2 separate regions of the Homo sapiens genome follow, and region 1 is linked to region 2. Evidence: fine-mapped expression QTL. Tissue or cell type: whole blood. Region 2 holds a variant in brackets; the other region holds the start of a gene. All regions are shown on one strand. Distances are from middle to middle.

Region 1 (8,000 bases), 230 kb after region 2:
TAAGAGTCCCTAAGAAAGATTTTTTAAAAATACAAATTACAGAAAAAAGCTAAAAATGTATCTCTACTGTTAAACATTTAAAAAATAAAGGCCACAAGAAGTAAGATTGACGTCTTCTCACAGCCTATTTTGTTCTTGTCTACAAAGGGGAATCTCTTTATTTTTTCTTTTTTAAAAATTTCTTTCCCAGTATAATCAAATCATACACTAAGAGGTTTTAGGTTTCTATTATACATTCTTTCCATTGGAATATTACAAGAGGTGTAATTTTCACTTGACAGAATAAACACAATCAAGTTCTGTGTCTAAGTCATAGAGCCCCATGAATTCCTAACATTTTAACTGCAATTCAATTATTTATTCTGTAACAATGAGGTAATAAACCAGGTACTAAGCAGCAATGTAGACCAACAAGATCCTTGTTCCCAAAAAACTCAAATTATCTGCAGTAAAGGACCAGTTGCTAATTGTTTTTTTAAAAAATTTCTATTCATTGGCCAGGCGCAGTGGCTCATGCCTGTAATCCCAGCACTTTGGGAGGCCGAGGCGGGTGGATCACCAGGTCAGGATATCGAGACCACCCTGGCTAACACGGTGAAACCCCATGTCTATGAAAAATACAAAAAATTAGCCAGGCTTGGTGGCGGGCGCCTGTAGTCCCAGCTACTCAGGAGGCTGAGGCAGGAGAATAGCATGAAGCCGGGAGGCGGAGCTTGCAGTGAATCGAGATCAGTCACTGCACTCCAGCCTGGGCGACAGAGCGAGACTCCATCTCAAAAAAAAAAAAAATTATATTCATTGTGGACCAGCAATTTTTAAGATACAATTAAGTTTCTAGTCCTAGTGCAGTAACTCGTGCCTGTAATCCCAGAGCTTTAGGAAGCTGAGGCAGGAGGATTGCTTGAGCCCAGGAGTTCAAGGTTGCAGTGAACTGTGATCAGGCCACCTGGGGGACAGAGTTAGAATCTGTCTCTAAAAATAACAATAATTTTTATAAAGTTTCCAGAAAAAAAAGGCATACAAAATAAAATCCCAAACGTTTCATTACTAGAGTCAATAGACATAAAATTATTCTGCTAAGTTGCTACACAAGTTTCTAAATGCTTAGTTTTCTTTTATTATCTCAATCCCAGCAGCCCCGTAACTACACTTTAAGCAGTACTGCTATAAACTCCTACCACACAGAGAGGCATTGCTGCACATTTCTTAATCTACGACTGTGCTTTATCCGGGAAGAGCAGGCATTTTTTTTGTATTTTTATTTACTCATATCTTTCTTTTATCCAGACACATTTTCCACAGTTTAGAGTCTGTGCAAATCTTCCTGGCCTCCTGCCACTCACAGCAATCTTGATCCATCTTTGAGATTCCTCACTTCATTCCTAAAAAAACTAATGATCTGCCCCAAATTATATATTAACTGTGAAACTTTGCATTTTCTAGTAATTCATTTCTCCCTTTGGTTCCAAATATTTCAATTCCTTAAAAGAAAAACAAAAACAAACAAAAAAACAGTGCTTAAAAGTACTTTGTGTCTAGAATTATAAGGGAGACTTTAAAAAGTATCGTTTTTGTGATAAATACTCTTAGAAAGGTAATGAGTACCCAGTCACTGAAGGGTGGTGTCTGCCTTTCATTTTTCTTTTCAGGCTGGGATAGGGATAGTGTGTGGGTGGGTGGGCAGTGTTCCCACACAGCTAGCCAGAGAAGGGACCAGGGAGCTGCTACAATCCCAGTTCCACTGTCTTGGTCCTGAAACCTGAATGGAGGCCGGGCACAGTGGCACACGCCTATAATCCCAGTGCTCTGGGAGGCTGAGGCAGGCGGTTCACCTGAGGTCAAGAGTTCAAGACCAGCCTGGCCAACATGGCGAAACCCTGTCTCTACAAAAATACAAAAATTAGCCAGGCATGATGGCGGGTGCCTGCAATCCCAGCTACTCAGGAGGCTGAGGCAGGAGACTTGCTTGAACCTAGGAGGCAGAGGTTGCAGTGAGCCGAGATCATGCCATTGCACTCCAGCCTGGGTGACAGAGCGAGACTCCGTCTAAAAAGAAAAAAAAGAAAAACTTAATGGAAGGAAGTCTGATGTTTCCCCAGAACAAATGCTCAAAGCAGTCACTACTCACTGGCACTCTAGCTGGACCTTGCTCCTGGGCAAGTGCTACAAAGAAAAACACCTCTAAGGTGGTGGGAAGAAGAACGGGACACTGAGAAAAAGGGGGAATACAGTGCTGCTGGGAATGGTTAGGTAACTGATGGCTCCGGCCCTCCCTCAAATTTCTAACATAAAAAGATGTTGGTACTGGGAAGAGAAAATAAGAACACCATAACAGGCTGGCTGCAGTGGCTCACGCCTGTAATCTTGGCACTTAGGGAGGCCGAGGCGGGTGAATTATTTGAGCCCAGGAATTTCCAGACCAGCCTGGGCAACATGGCAAAATCCCATCTCTATTAAAAAATACAAACAAATTTAGCCAGGCATGGTGGCCCCTTGCCTGTAGTCCCAGCTACTTGGGGGGCTGAGGTGGAAGGATCACTTGAGCCCAGGAGGTCAAAGCTGCAGTGAGCCGAGATCACAGCACTGCACTCCAGCCTGGGTGACAAAGTGAGACCCTGTCTCAAAAGAAAAAAAGGAACAACAATAAGAACACCATAACAAATAAATATTATTTTTGGTGCATTGACAATTGTGTATAAATCAACACTTCATTAATATGAGAACAGAAGGATATCAATTTGTTGGTTGCTGACCAATATTATCAACAATTCAAGGCTTTACTAACAACCAACCAATGATTTGGCAGGTCTCTCAAACGAGGGGAAATAAAGAATTTTATGAATTCTCAAAGATGGAAAATAGAAAACTGATGACCACACAGCCTTCAAAACTTGCCCAATACCTCTAATATCCACGGCAATCAGTTGCTCACGTAAGGAACCAGCATTTTGTGGAGTAGTAGTTAATAAAGATGACAAGTGAAGAATAGAGAATAAACTTAAATTCTACAAAGATATGAAAAGTTATTGAGGCACAAGTCCAAAGGCTATAATAAAGAAAAAAGAAAAAAAGTTTTGAAAAATTAAAATGTAAATAAAGATGTGGTGGGAGATCTATCAGGGAAGTGCAGGAAGAACCAAGCAACTCACAAACCACCCTCTGGCTGGATGTGCACAGCCTGCCCAGTCCCGTCCGGCGAGTCACCTCAGTCCCATCCAGGTAAGGCCGGACAGGTGGCTCCCCAGGTGGCAAGAGGCAAGCGAGCGGCCCAGGTCATACACCGGGCCCCTGGCACCCTCAGCCTGGACAGGAAGGGCGCGCGGGATTCAGCCCAGACGAGGGAGGGAACGCGAAGACTCAGCCGGTCTGGGCGCGCCGTTCTGGCCCCAGGGCCCGCGGGTGCTGCAGGTGGCCGCGTCCAGGGCGGTAGGTGGGGCCTGCCCGCTCGCCTCCCGAGGCCGGACCCCGGGACTCAGCGAAACCCAGTCAGACCCGCGCCCCACGCCCGCCCCCAAGTCACCTTCTGCACGCTGGAGCCGCAGACCCGCGCCGCCCGGTCATAGACGTGGCAGCGGATCACAGAACTGCCCACATCCAGCCCCAGCACGAAGCCGGGGTACCGCGGCTCCTGCGCTCTCTGCTCCGGGTCCGTGAGCAGCCCCGACATCCCGATCCCGCACGCCTCTCCGCTACAGCCGCCTACCCAGAGGGCGCGCTACAAATCCCAATGCTCCAGAGTCCCCGGGCGGCCCAACCCGGGCCCCAACCCGGCTCAGCCGGAGAGCCTAGAGAGGCCTGGCCCCTGCCGCCGGCTCCACCCCGACGCCGTGACGCCACGGGCGCGCGCCGGCGGCCGCGCGGGAGGGGTGGAGGTGAGCGGGTTTGCGCCGTGATCTGCAGCCCCAGATCGCCAGCCATGCTCAGCCTCCAGTCGCCGGCCGCGGTTGGATTGACTTGGCCCTTAACTCTTGTTTTTTTTCTTTTTGAGACGGAGTCTCACTCTGTCGCCCCGGCTGGAGTGCGGTGGCGCGATCTCGGCTCACTGCAACCTCCGCCTCCCGGGTTCAAGCGATTCTCTTGCCTCAGCCTCCCGAGTAGCTGGGATTACAGGCGCGCTCCACCACGCCCGGCTATTTTTGTATTTTTAGTAGAGAAGGGGTTTCACCATGTTGATCAGGCTGGTCTCGATCTCCTGATCTCGTGATCCGCTCGCCTCGGCTTCCCAAATTGCTGCGATTGCAGGCGTGAGCCACCGAGCCCGGCGGCCCTTAACTCTTAATTTTTTCTTTTGCTTCTCCAGCTTCCTGAGAGGCAGCGCCAGCGTTTCTCTTAACCCTAGCTACATTTGAAGAATCTCTGTTAAAGAAAAATAGCTACCCCATATGCTAATCGTAAGGAGAGAAGTATAGGCTAGTTTATATAAAAATCTCAAAAAGTTTGGAGGTGCCATAAGGCACATTTATTCATTTCTCAACTATGATTATGACTTGAGGGTTGGAGAAATTTTTATCTGAGTAACTTTGGCAGACTAACCTGTGTCTGCGTTCGTGCAGAATTTTTCAAGCTTAAAACATTTGTAGAGGTCACTACCATATATAGTTTCCATTTTTTTGCTAACATTTTGGGTGCGACTTTATTTCAGTATTATTAAATGCACAGCCATTGAATATGCTAGAGTTAAATGAAATAAAGTGCTGTTTTTCAAAAATGAAATAAAACAAGTGACATAAAAAATTCAAAATTTGGCCAAAAGTATTAATATTTATTAACAAACTGAGAGCTCCCCACGACTTCTCTTCCCAGAAAACCTGGTAAAGTTTGCACACAATACAAAGCGGTAAATATTTGCCAAATGAAATACAACGCAAGGAAGAAGACTTTTCTCAGCCCTCTAGTGGGAAAGAAAGGAGAAAGCTTAAGGTGGCTGCTTTGACCATCACACTCCACTCCAGCGGTTGCTTTTTTTTGGAATCTGAAAGCCTCACAGAGACCCTTTACCTTTTGTTGCTGCCCAAGGGGATGGGCTCATCCAGACACTTGGCCAAAAGGAACAAGGTGTCCTGTGGAAATTTCGAGATTCTTGCGGCTTAGGTTCCTGGGCCTGGAGCTTTCCCGGGGAGGGTCCTGATCTGCAAGTAGTGGGGAGGTGGTTCCACCTGCGCCACCCACCTCTCCACTGCCACCAGCAATCTGTGAAGCCGGGGCCTGAAAATATTCCTTATCTTCTTTTTGTAAAATTAGCAAACATATGAATATATGTTTTGTGTGAAAACGTTTAACAGTGCCAACTGGTATGTCAATTAAAAGGTAAAAGATAATCATTTTGGCTGGGCGCGGGGGCTCACGACTGTAATCCCAGCACTTTCGGAGGCCGAGGCGGGCGGATCACTTGAGGTCAGGAGTTTGAGAGCAGCCTGGGCAACATGGTGAAACCCCGTCTCTACAAAAATACAAAACTTAGCCGGGCGTGGTAGCGGGCTCCTGCAATCCCAGCTACGGGGGAGGCTGAGGCAGGAGAATTACTTGAAGCCGGGAGGCGGAGGTTGCAGTGAGCCGAGATCATGCCACTGCACTCCAGCCTGGGCGACAGAGCAAGACTCTGCCTCAAAATACATACATACATACATACATACATACATACATACATACATACATACTTACATACATACATACATACATACTCATTTTGAATCAAAACTTTTTTTAGACAGGGTCTTGCTCTGTCGCCCAGGCTGGAGTGCTGTGGTGCCATCTCAGCTCACTGCAGCCTCGACCTCCCGGGCTCAGGCGATCCAACTGCCTTAGCCTCCCATGTAGCTGGGACTACAACCACCACGCCCGCCTAATTTTTGCATTTTTTTGTAGAGACTCTGTTTCGCCATATTGGCCAGGCTGGTCTTGAGCTCCTGGCCTCAAGTGATCCTCCCACCTTTGTCTCCCAAAGTGCTGGGATTATGGGTGTGAGCCATTGTGCCCAGCCAAATCATTCTTTTTTTTTTTTTTTCTTTTTTGAGACGGAGTTTTGCCCTTGTTTGCCCAGGCTGGAGTGCAGTGCTGCGATCTCGGCTCACTGCAACCTCCGCCTCCCGGATTCAAGCGATTCTCCTGCCTCAGTCTCCCAAGTTGCTGGGACTACAGGCCCTCTCCACCATGCCCAGCTAATTTTTGTATTTTTAGTAGAGACGGGGTTTCACCATGTTAGCCAGGATGGTCTGGATCTCCTGACCTCGTGATCCGCCCGCCACGGCCTCCCAAAGTGCTGGGATTACAAGCGTGAGCCACTGCACAGGGCCAAGTCATTCTTTTGACCAAATTGTCGTGTTAATCAACTTGCTTTCAGACAATTTGACAAAATTGGCTCTTTGGCCATACAACGTGAAGCTTGGAACATACACCTGGAAGAGTATGTTTTTTTTCTTTGTACCCTGTTCAACAGTACTGATTTGTTCCAAGTGGCCTCAAGGACTGACTGCCTTCACCAGTGCTGGCCATTTTGGTCGTGTGTGTGTGTGAATTATTGTAATTCGAAATAAATGACTAATGGGTCCAGTACTTGTCAGGGTTCTACAGAGAAATAGAAACAATAGGATAGAGAGAAAGAGAAAGAGAGGTTTATTATTTTCAGGAATTGCTTCATGTGATTGTGAGGGCTGGCAAGTCCTGGATATTTGTGGGGCAGGCTAGCAGGCTGGAAACTCAAGAAGAGTTTCCATGTTGCAGTTTTGAGGAGACTTCCTTCTTTGGGAAACCTGTCTTTGTTCTTAAAGCTTAAAACCAATTGTATGAGACTCACCCAGGTTATGAAGGGTGATCTGCTTTACTCAAAGTCTACTAATTTAAATGTTAATTATTTCTAAGAAATACCTTCACAACAACACCTAGACTGGTGTTTGACCGAACAGCTGGGCATACAGTGTGTCTAACTAGCCTAGCCAAGTTCACACATAATAGTAACCATATCAGTTCCCCATTCACAACAGAGAAAACGGCTTTGTATTACCTGATGTTAATATTTAGTATATTTCTCAAAGTGATATTTCTTGGCTTCTTGAAACCTGACACTTCCTTAATGATCCTTTTTATAAATTCAAATAAATTATATTGAGTATTATCAAATCATAGAATTTGAAAACAGGGGCCTTAGAAACCACTTAATCTAGTGTTTCTCAAATTGTTTTCAGATCTTGAACAACTTTGAGGCCATAATGAACACTATCTTCCCAAGAAGATGCTTATACACACAAAATTTTGCACATAACTTCAGGTGCTGGGTGTTGGGTAAAGCAAACATAAAGATCTCAGATAAAAATCAAGATCTTATTTCACTGTTGAGTAGGAGAGGCCTGGGAGAACAAAGAGATACCTGTTTCTCCCACTTGCTTTGTTCTCTGTCAGCACCTCTAACCCTGCTCTTCTCTAAGGGAAAGGAGTATATGGGCAACAAGGCACAGGGCTCAGAGGCTTCTAAGGCCTTTGATAGCTGGTCAGTCATTCTTTTTTCTTAATTTTTAAAAAATTTTATGGATACATAGTAGGTGTATATATTTTTGGGTTACATGAGATATTTTGATACAGGCATGATAATCACATCAAGGTAAATAGGGTATCTTTTATGTCAAGCATTTATCCTTTGTGTTGCAAACAATCAAATTATACTCTTATTTTTAATGTACAACTAAATTGACTGTATCAAAAAATAGTCGATGTTGGTGTGAATGTGGTGAAAGGGGAACACAGACTGCTGTTGGGAATGTAAATTAGTACAGCCTCTATGAAAAACAGTGTGGAGATTCCTTAAAAGAGCTAAAAGTAGATCTACCATTTGATCCAGGATTCCCATTACTGGGTATCTACCCAAAAGAAAATAAGTCATTATATGAAAAATACACCTACACAAATATATTTATTATGGCACAATTCACAATTGCAAAGATATGGAACCAACCTAAGTGCCCATCAACTAATGGGTGAATAAAGAAAATATGGTATATATATATACA
Region 2 (8,264 bases):
AAGAAAGAAGAAAAAAAAAGCATAAAGAAAAAAATGAAACACCACTGTGCTAAATCTTATTTAGAACAAGGAATAAAGAAAAATACATGTAGCAATCTTCGTGGTTTGACAGACGGGTGGTGGGGATACATTACAGAAAAGTTATATTCAAAACTTTTTAAAAAATGATAAAAAAAAAATGCTAGGAAAAAAAGCCACTGAACCAAATGTAGAAAGAGAAAGTTGAACCAATGGCTACACTATAAATTTAACCTAACACTTTTATGTGTTCTCACTTATAGATCTTTAGAATTCTTACTTACAAAGGAGAATAAAGAGAATCTTGGTTTTTGTACTGTTTGCAGTGCAGAGGTGCCACCAATCATAACTGACAAATAGTTCCATTTTAAGGCCTTAAACATTGCTAAATACCTCTGCAAGAACTTGTTCTGTTGCCCTTTCGAAGGATAAACACCAGTAAAGACCAGTTTGAGTTGGAAAGAGGACTTTCTGTTAGAGAGTAAAGAACATTTCATTTCTATGATACAGCAGCTCCTCAGAAGTGATTGTATCTGTTGAAAACGATTAGCACCAAGAAGCAAACAACAAAAGCCACCAAGGAACTGAAACAGCACTAGTGTCAGGGCAAGAAAACACACATCCTTTATACATATTCCCATGGTTCTCACTCAGAACCTAGTCACTTTCATTTTAGACTGAATTCTAACATATTTGGCCATCTAATTTCTCAGGGCACAGCAAATCAGAGATAGCAAATTAGAAAATGTAGGAGTTTCTGACATGGCAGGCATTTATTTTTTACTTAACAGACTACAAGTGATTCTGATGCACAGCCAGAATGGAGAAGCCACTGTCCTAATATTCTAAGATAACATGAACTTTCCTTATGCCCAACATATTGCTTAAGAAAGAAGCAAGTTTGTTATGATTTATAAATGTTTTAAGAAAAACTTAGCCGGGTGTGGTGGCTCATGCCTGTAATCCCAGCACTTTGGGAGGCTGAGGCAGGAGAATTGCTTGAACCCGGGAGGCAGAGGTTGCAGTGAGCCAAGATAACGCCACTGCACTCCAGCCTGGGTGACAGAGCAAGACTTCATCTCAAAAAAAAGAAAAAAGAAAAAATTGTTAAACTTTGGGCATGTTAGGGTAATGTGGAGTATTCACTTTGATAGAACTCTTCATTTACCAGATGGAAAGAGAGGAGAGACTAAAGGACATACTACCAATAGTCAATCTGCTCACAGGGTAATTTCTACTGAAACCATACAGATACTATGAGTGAACTGGGGCACTCAATGCAGAATGAAATAATGGCAAGAACTGAAAGAAGTTAAAGTTACATGAAGAAAAACATCGCATTAAACCAGAGCAGTGGCAATGCCAACAGCCTCTCTATATAGCCAAATCTTCCAAACAAAATAGTTAGACTTATACTCACCTTTCTGAAAAATCAGAGTCTATAAATTTTCTAGCCCGTTTTCTATCACTAAAAAGGAAAAAAGATAGCATAAAAACAATACATACTTAAATACAATTTAATTTCATTAATACTTTATTATAACTTGTCTAAAATTATACACTGAATATATTCAAAGACTAAAACTAGCAAATACAAAAGATAGGTACATAAAATAAATCTTAATTTTATCATGTGAACAAGGTATCACAACTTAATAATCATAAGTTGAAAAGAGCTCAATGACTAGCTAGAGAGGAAAACACTGCAGACTTGCAAACAAGATAGAGAAAAATTTTCTTCACTCTGCGAAATACTGACTATAAAAACACCAGACAATCCTGCCACCTCCAATATAAAGCACAAATGGGGCTGAAAACATCCAGACCCTGGTCATTTCCAAAGTGGGCCAGCACTGCTGGCACAGGCTTGGCTTTCACGTTATAATCTTTCAAGGCTATAGAGAAATCCAGGGTAACCTTTGATCTACATAAGAATGTTCATAAGGATTGAATAACACCCATAGGATTCCAGGTAATTCTGTCATTTCAGCTCATTTGATAATGGAAAAGTATGCATATACAAAACTCTTCTGTCTTTAATGTATTTGTGTTTGTACATGTGTGTAGGCATGTATTTATGTATATTAATATGTATGCATATTAAAGCACTTTGCCAGGATTATTAATTCACTTAATATCCTTGAAGCAAGGAGATTCTTACTTAACTAAGACTTACCATCTGCTTGCTCAAACTCACATATGACAGAATCACCAATGCAGTATTCCACCATGTAAATAACTTCTAAAGTAACAAAACGTCTAAGGTAACAAAATGAGGTTTTGAGTAATTTATCTTACTTATTTTTCTTTTATGGAAGTATGAGGTACTAAAATGATAAAGAGTGGAGAAAGGTATAAGTATTTTACATGCAAAGATGAAACATATAGAAGTTTGTACTAAAAGTGACAAATTAGTAACAGAAGGGATATTGATTCAATTGTTCAGCGTTTAAAAAGAAGAGGAAATTTAATAAAAAATTTATCTGGCCTCTTTTCCTACCCTTTTCTGGTCTTTATGGAAGTAATTCATAGGGGAAATTCTGAGTATAGCCAACACTTAATATTTAACTCCTTTTCTGTGTGAGTTAAAAATATATAAAAATATAGTTTTTATATCTCCAAAGCAGTTAAATATTATAATAATAAAAGTAGTCCTATTCCAGAGTTTAAAAAGTCACAGGGTTTAGTTATGAGTTATTGCACTGTTTTTTTCTGTTTAAAAATAGTTATTCCAGAGATTATTTATATCTAAGATATAAAGTGAAATAAAATAGGTGATTTTAAAGGAAAAACATTTGTTTTTAAGAACTAAACTAAAACAAGAACAGAAGACAAGATAGTAAGAAAAAAATGTCTAAACTTTTTTTAAGGTTTTAAAAATAGTAACTTGCAACACTCTTACCCAGGGACCCAGCCAGTAGCTTCTGCTATGTGTGTCTGAGTAACCATTGCTGGTGCAGGGGTATATGGACTCCCAATCAGAACACTTCCTGAACTGGTTAGTCTCTGTGGTGTGCTTATAATCTGTAAAGTTAGGAACAAAGAATATAATATTCTTAATTATTAAGAAAAGCCTACAGGCAGAAAATAACATTGATTGCTAACCTACATATGAGGAAACCTTGCTGCCTAAAAGGCACTTAATGTCAGTCATCTAAAAATATAAGCAATGCCTTTGATTTACTTATATCCTAGGATCTTAAAGCACAAGTATCCTGAATACTGACATGAGGTCACAATGCAGGTTTCAGCAAATAAATGGCAATTTGGAAGGATTAAGTAGAGAACTGATAATGCTTTAAAAATCAGAAAAATGAAAAGCTTTCTTTGAAACTGAGGAAATGAATTGCAGTACAGCTTGATTTACTAGAACCAGGGCAACAGCAAATCACACTTCCACAGTCCATCATACAGTATACACAAAGATACTATCCAGCTTGGATTATTATATAGATGCAATTTTATCCTTTTTTAAAAGAGTATTGGACCAGGAGCGGTGGCTCGTGCCTGTAAACCCAGCATTTGGGAGGCCGAGGTGGGAGGATCACCTGAGGTCAC[G/A]AGTTCAAGACCAGCCTGGCCAACATGGTGAAAACCTATCTCTATTAAAAATATAAAATTAGCCAGGTATGGTGCTGTGCGCCTGTAATCCCAGCTACATGGGAGGCTGAGGCAGGAGAATCGCTTGAACCTGGAAGGTGGAAGTTGCAGTGAGTTGAGATCACGCCACTGCACTCCAGCCTGGGCAAAAAGAGCAAAACTCCATTTCAAAAAAAAAAAAAAAAAAAAAAAAGAGTATTCATGTTATTAAATACTCTTTGAAGATAGTTTAAAGACCATAAAACATTCTACCATGTGGATTTATTATTCTCTATTAGATATATATGCATTTTTAATTATTCACTATTATAAAGAATGCTGTGATAAACATTTTTGTACAAAGACCTTGCCCTTAATTTCTATTTCCTAAGGCTAGACTCCAGAAAGGGGATTAATGGAACCCCTAAAGACTTTTTTAGAAAGGTACCTTATATGTGTTACCAGGTCTTAAAATTTTCACTGGTTACAAAACAAAACATGTTTTTCCCAAAGACATTTATAATAATTAATACAAAAAAACTAGCAGCCTAGTAATAGCTTTAGAAGTATTTTCATGTAAAAAAAGGGGAAGAGGCATGCTCCGGTGAATGGGGATATTAATGAAACATGATTGGCCCCTATGTGGATAATTGTTGAAGCAACTGCTGGGTATATAGTTCTATTTTTGTAAAGTTTTGAAAGTGTTCATGATAGTAAGTTTTAAGTCCCAACTGAGAATGAAAAATATCTACAGGGACTACAAGTAATTGTTAATAAGTCCTCAAACAAGAGAAATAGTTCTATTTCTACTGCCTTATGCAAGACAAAATGCTAATTAATTTTTATCTCCCTGACCAAATGAAACATGTTTCTGCAGCCAGGGTGAATCATTAAGTTCATTGCTAACTTGCTCCATACATAACTGAAGGGAAGGATTAATAAGCATTTCAAGCTCTTTATTTGCATTTGAAGGAAAGAGTCAAACAATAACCTCTGAAGCATAAAAATAGTTCAGACCTAGTTATTAAAGTCTAGTCAACATTTATTCATTTACCAAGTATTTAAGACCTTAGTTAGAGTCTGTTTATGTTTGACTATGTTAGCTTGGGGCTAGGAAGATGTTAGCACCTAGAAATGTTTATGAAATAGTTTCAATCCGTTCATTCCATAGTTTAAAAAAATAAAAACAAAAGTTAATAATACTGACAGATGTCTGGAGAGTTCTGATTATGTACAATACACCAAGGGTATTAAATAAGGCACTCAGAAGTTTGCCTCATGAGAAAACATAAAAACAGACAATGTGTCTGTACCTCTCATCAAATTCTGCCTTGCATTCCAAGTATGCTTGCACTTCCCACTCCACACATCTGGTCCCACATCCCCACTTTCAGTGCATCCCCCATTTCAGTGCAGGATCTTTAGGGGTGGCGAGTACCTTGCTAAACTATGTCCTTTGCAGGGTTTAACACAGTGGTAGGGGATGCTCATAGGAAAGGTACAATAAATATTTACTAACTGGGATAAAATACTCAATTTTTAAAATAATAGGGGAAAAAGTAACTTCATTTATTGATATGCTAAAAGGTTTATATAAAATCCACTAAAAAAATACAGCATAGTTTCCACCAATCACTACATCACATTCTCTATCATGCTGACCTTGGATGGACAACTTATAAAGAAAAATGTGAGTTATTTGATTAGCCTCTGGTCAACCCTATTCCTTGAACAGCAGTGTCTACAAAGCTATTCTAAGCATTCCAATTTACCCTTGAAACAGATTGTATTACTACTGCAGTATTTCTATATGGTATTAGCAGCCTACATGCTTGGTTTTGCTGATTTACAGGACTTTGTAGAAAAAAAAAAGGAGCTGGGCATGGTGGCTCATGCCTGTAATCCTAGCACTTTGAGAGGCAAAGGCAGGCGGATCATTTGAGGCCAGGAGTTCAAGATCAGCCTGGCCAATATGGTGAAACCCTAACTCTCCTAAAAATACAAAAATTAGCTGGGCGTGGGGGTGGGCACCTATAATCTCAGCTACCTGGAAGGCTGAGGCAGGACAATCACTTGAACCCAGGAGGCAGAGGTTACAGTAAGCAGAGATCATGCCACTGCACTCCAGCCTGGGCGACAGAGTGAGACTCCATCTCAAAAAAAAAAAAAAAAAAAAAGAGAAAGAAAGGAAAAAAAGAGAGAAGGAAGGGAAAGAGGACATAGAGAAAAACTGGCTATCTTTATGAAAATGACTTTGAAAGTGAATTCTAGTTTACATTTTCTTTTTTTCCCTCCCTCATTGTCAGATTGTTAGCTGCGGCTGATCGGAGAGTGATTAGCAACACTCTGCTCCTTTCTCTTAGCACAGGGCCTGGTACATAGCAATTCCTTAATAAACATTTCCTACATGAACAAATTAGAGAGATGACGCACCTGAATAGGAAAGATAAGGCCTAAGAGTATGTGAGATACAGTAAGTTCCTAAACTAGGATAATGAGAGTGAAACGTAAGAAATAAAACAGAAGGAAAGTCGGTAAGACTTGAACAGCCACAGAATATAAGAAAATTGGTTTATAGGGTGATGAGCCGGTCATGCTTTCTAACCCTGAACCTTAATTTTGAAATCCCAGGCCAGGCACAGTGGCTCACTCCTATAATCCCCGCACTTTGGGAGCCTAAGGCAGGTGAGGTAGGCTCCCATTTGAGGTAGGGAGTTCGAGACCAGCCTGGCCAACATGGTGAAACCCCATATCTACCAAAAATACAAAAAAAATCAGCTGGGTGTTGTGGTGCACGCCGGTAATCCCAGCTACTCAGGAGGCTGAGGCAGAAGAATCACTTGAACCTGGGAAGCGGAGGCTGCAGTGAGCTGAGATCGTGCCACTACACTCTCCAGCCTAGGTGACAGAGCGAGACTCTGTCAAAAAAGAAAAAAAATTTGAAGTACTGAAGTTGGAGGTAAAAATATACTTTTAATATTCACTTGATATGCTAAGGAAAATGGAGTTTTAAATTTCAGAGTCCTCCTACCAAAAATCCAGACATCCTTAACTTAAATGTTATCATGTGGTTTCTCTGACAATAGAATTAGTTACTCTGGGAAAATCACATAGCAATTGAACATTACTCTGAACATTTTCCTGCCCTCAATCAACATATTTTATGTGCTACTGCCATCTACAGTTAAAAAAAGCCAAGACAGCATATGTATTCTAAAGGGAAAAAAAATTACAAAATTATAAAGTGGTATATTAAGAGATTTCACTATTTGATGGAATTTTGGTTTTCACTATAAGAAGCATGCAGTTTTTACTCTTCTAAAATAAGACAGCCATTAGATTATCTTATACAGTTGACCCTTGAACAACATGGGCTTGAACTGGGCAGGTCCACTTATACATGGATTTTCTTCCACTTCTGCCACCCTTGAGACAGCCAGACCAACTCCTCCCTCTTTCTCCTCCGCAGCCTGCTCAACGTGAAGACGTCGAGGATGAAGACTTTTATGATAATCCACTTCCATTTAATGAATTATAAATGTATTTTCCTAATGATTTTCTTTGTAATATTTTTCCCTAGGTTACTTTATTGTAAGAATACAGTATACAATACATATTAACATATGAAATAACATTAATATAACATAAAATGTGTTATTTGATTATTTATGTTATAGTAAGGCTTCTAGTCAATAATAAGGTATTAATAGTTACATTTTGGGGGAGTCAAAAGCTACCCATGGATTTGTGACTGCACAGGGGCTGTGCCCTTATCCCTTGCATTGGTCAAAGGTCAACTGTATAAATAATCTTAAGATCTATAACATATAACCATAAGACAGCCTGTAAGAAAAGGGCAAGTATCTCAAACTAAAATAGGTACTGCTAAACTAGTTTCCATAACCACACAAAACTTTTCATGGGGCCTTTTGAAATTTCTATCTACCATTAAGATTTGGCTTCCAAAAGACATGTAAAGTTCAAAGGGCAAGCACAAAAAGAAGGCTAAGAAGCAAATGGGTGAGTTTGTAATGCAAGAATTCCTTTTTTTTTTTTTTTTGAGACGGAGTCTGGCTCTGTTGCCTAGGCTGGAGTGCAGTGGCGTGATCTCAGCTCACTGCAAGCTCCGCCTCCCGGGTTCATGCCATTCTCCTGCCTCAGCCTCCTGAGTAGCTGGGACTACAGGCGCCTGCCACCACGCCCGGCTAATTTTTTGTACTTTTAGTAGAGACGGGGTTTCACCTTGTTAGCCAGGATGGTCTCGATCTCCTGACCTCGTGATCTGCCTGCCTGAGCCTCCCAAAGTGCTGGGATTACAGGCGTGAGCCACCACGCCCAGCCTAATCCAAGAATTCTTTAACTAAACAAAAACTTTTTTAAAAATCATGGATGAGGGAGTTAGAGGAGAAGCGATAAATGGCTGTAACTGGGTGTCTTAGTCCATTCAGGCTACCATAACAAACCACCTTAGACTGGGTAATTAATTAATTTTCTTTAAAGTCTTCTGCAAGGAGTACAAAACTGGGTAATTTACAAACCACAGAAATTTATTGCTCACTGTTCTGGAGGTTGCTGAGAGGTCCAAAATGAAAGTGCCGGCAGATTCAGTGCCTGGTGAGGGTTTATTCTCTGCTTCAAAGATGATGCCTTCTGGTTGCATCCTAATAGCA

What was found. PIP is the estimated chance that this variant, and not a neighbour inherited with it, causes the effect.
Region 1: it holds the start of GK5, and the variant in region 2 is fine-mapped to the expression of GK5 in whole blood (INTERVAL, PIP 0.95).

What each region holds. Positions count from the first base shown.
Region 1 is chr3:142,221,789-142,229,788 of GRCh38, forward strand. It overlaps GK5 (glycerol kinase 5), which reads right to left and starts at 3,797. Exons shown (of 16, transcript NM_001039547.3): 1 at 3,521-3,797. The coding sequence starts at 3,667. RefSeq lists silencers at 3,331-3,550, 3,741-3,980.
Region 2 is chr3:141,992,100-142,000,363 of GRCh38, forward strand. It overlaps TFDP2 (transcription factor Dp-2), which reads right to left. Exons shown (of 13, transcript NM_001178139.2): 5 at 2,921-3,042; 6 at 1,439-1,486. Among named protein-coding and RNA genes, the nearest start is that of ATP1B3, 120 kb to the left of the region's middle. The variant G/A (reference allele first, on the strand shown) is at 3,577.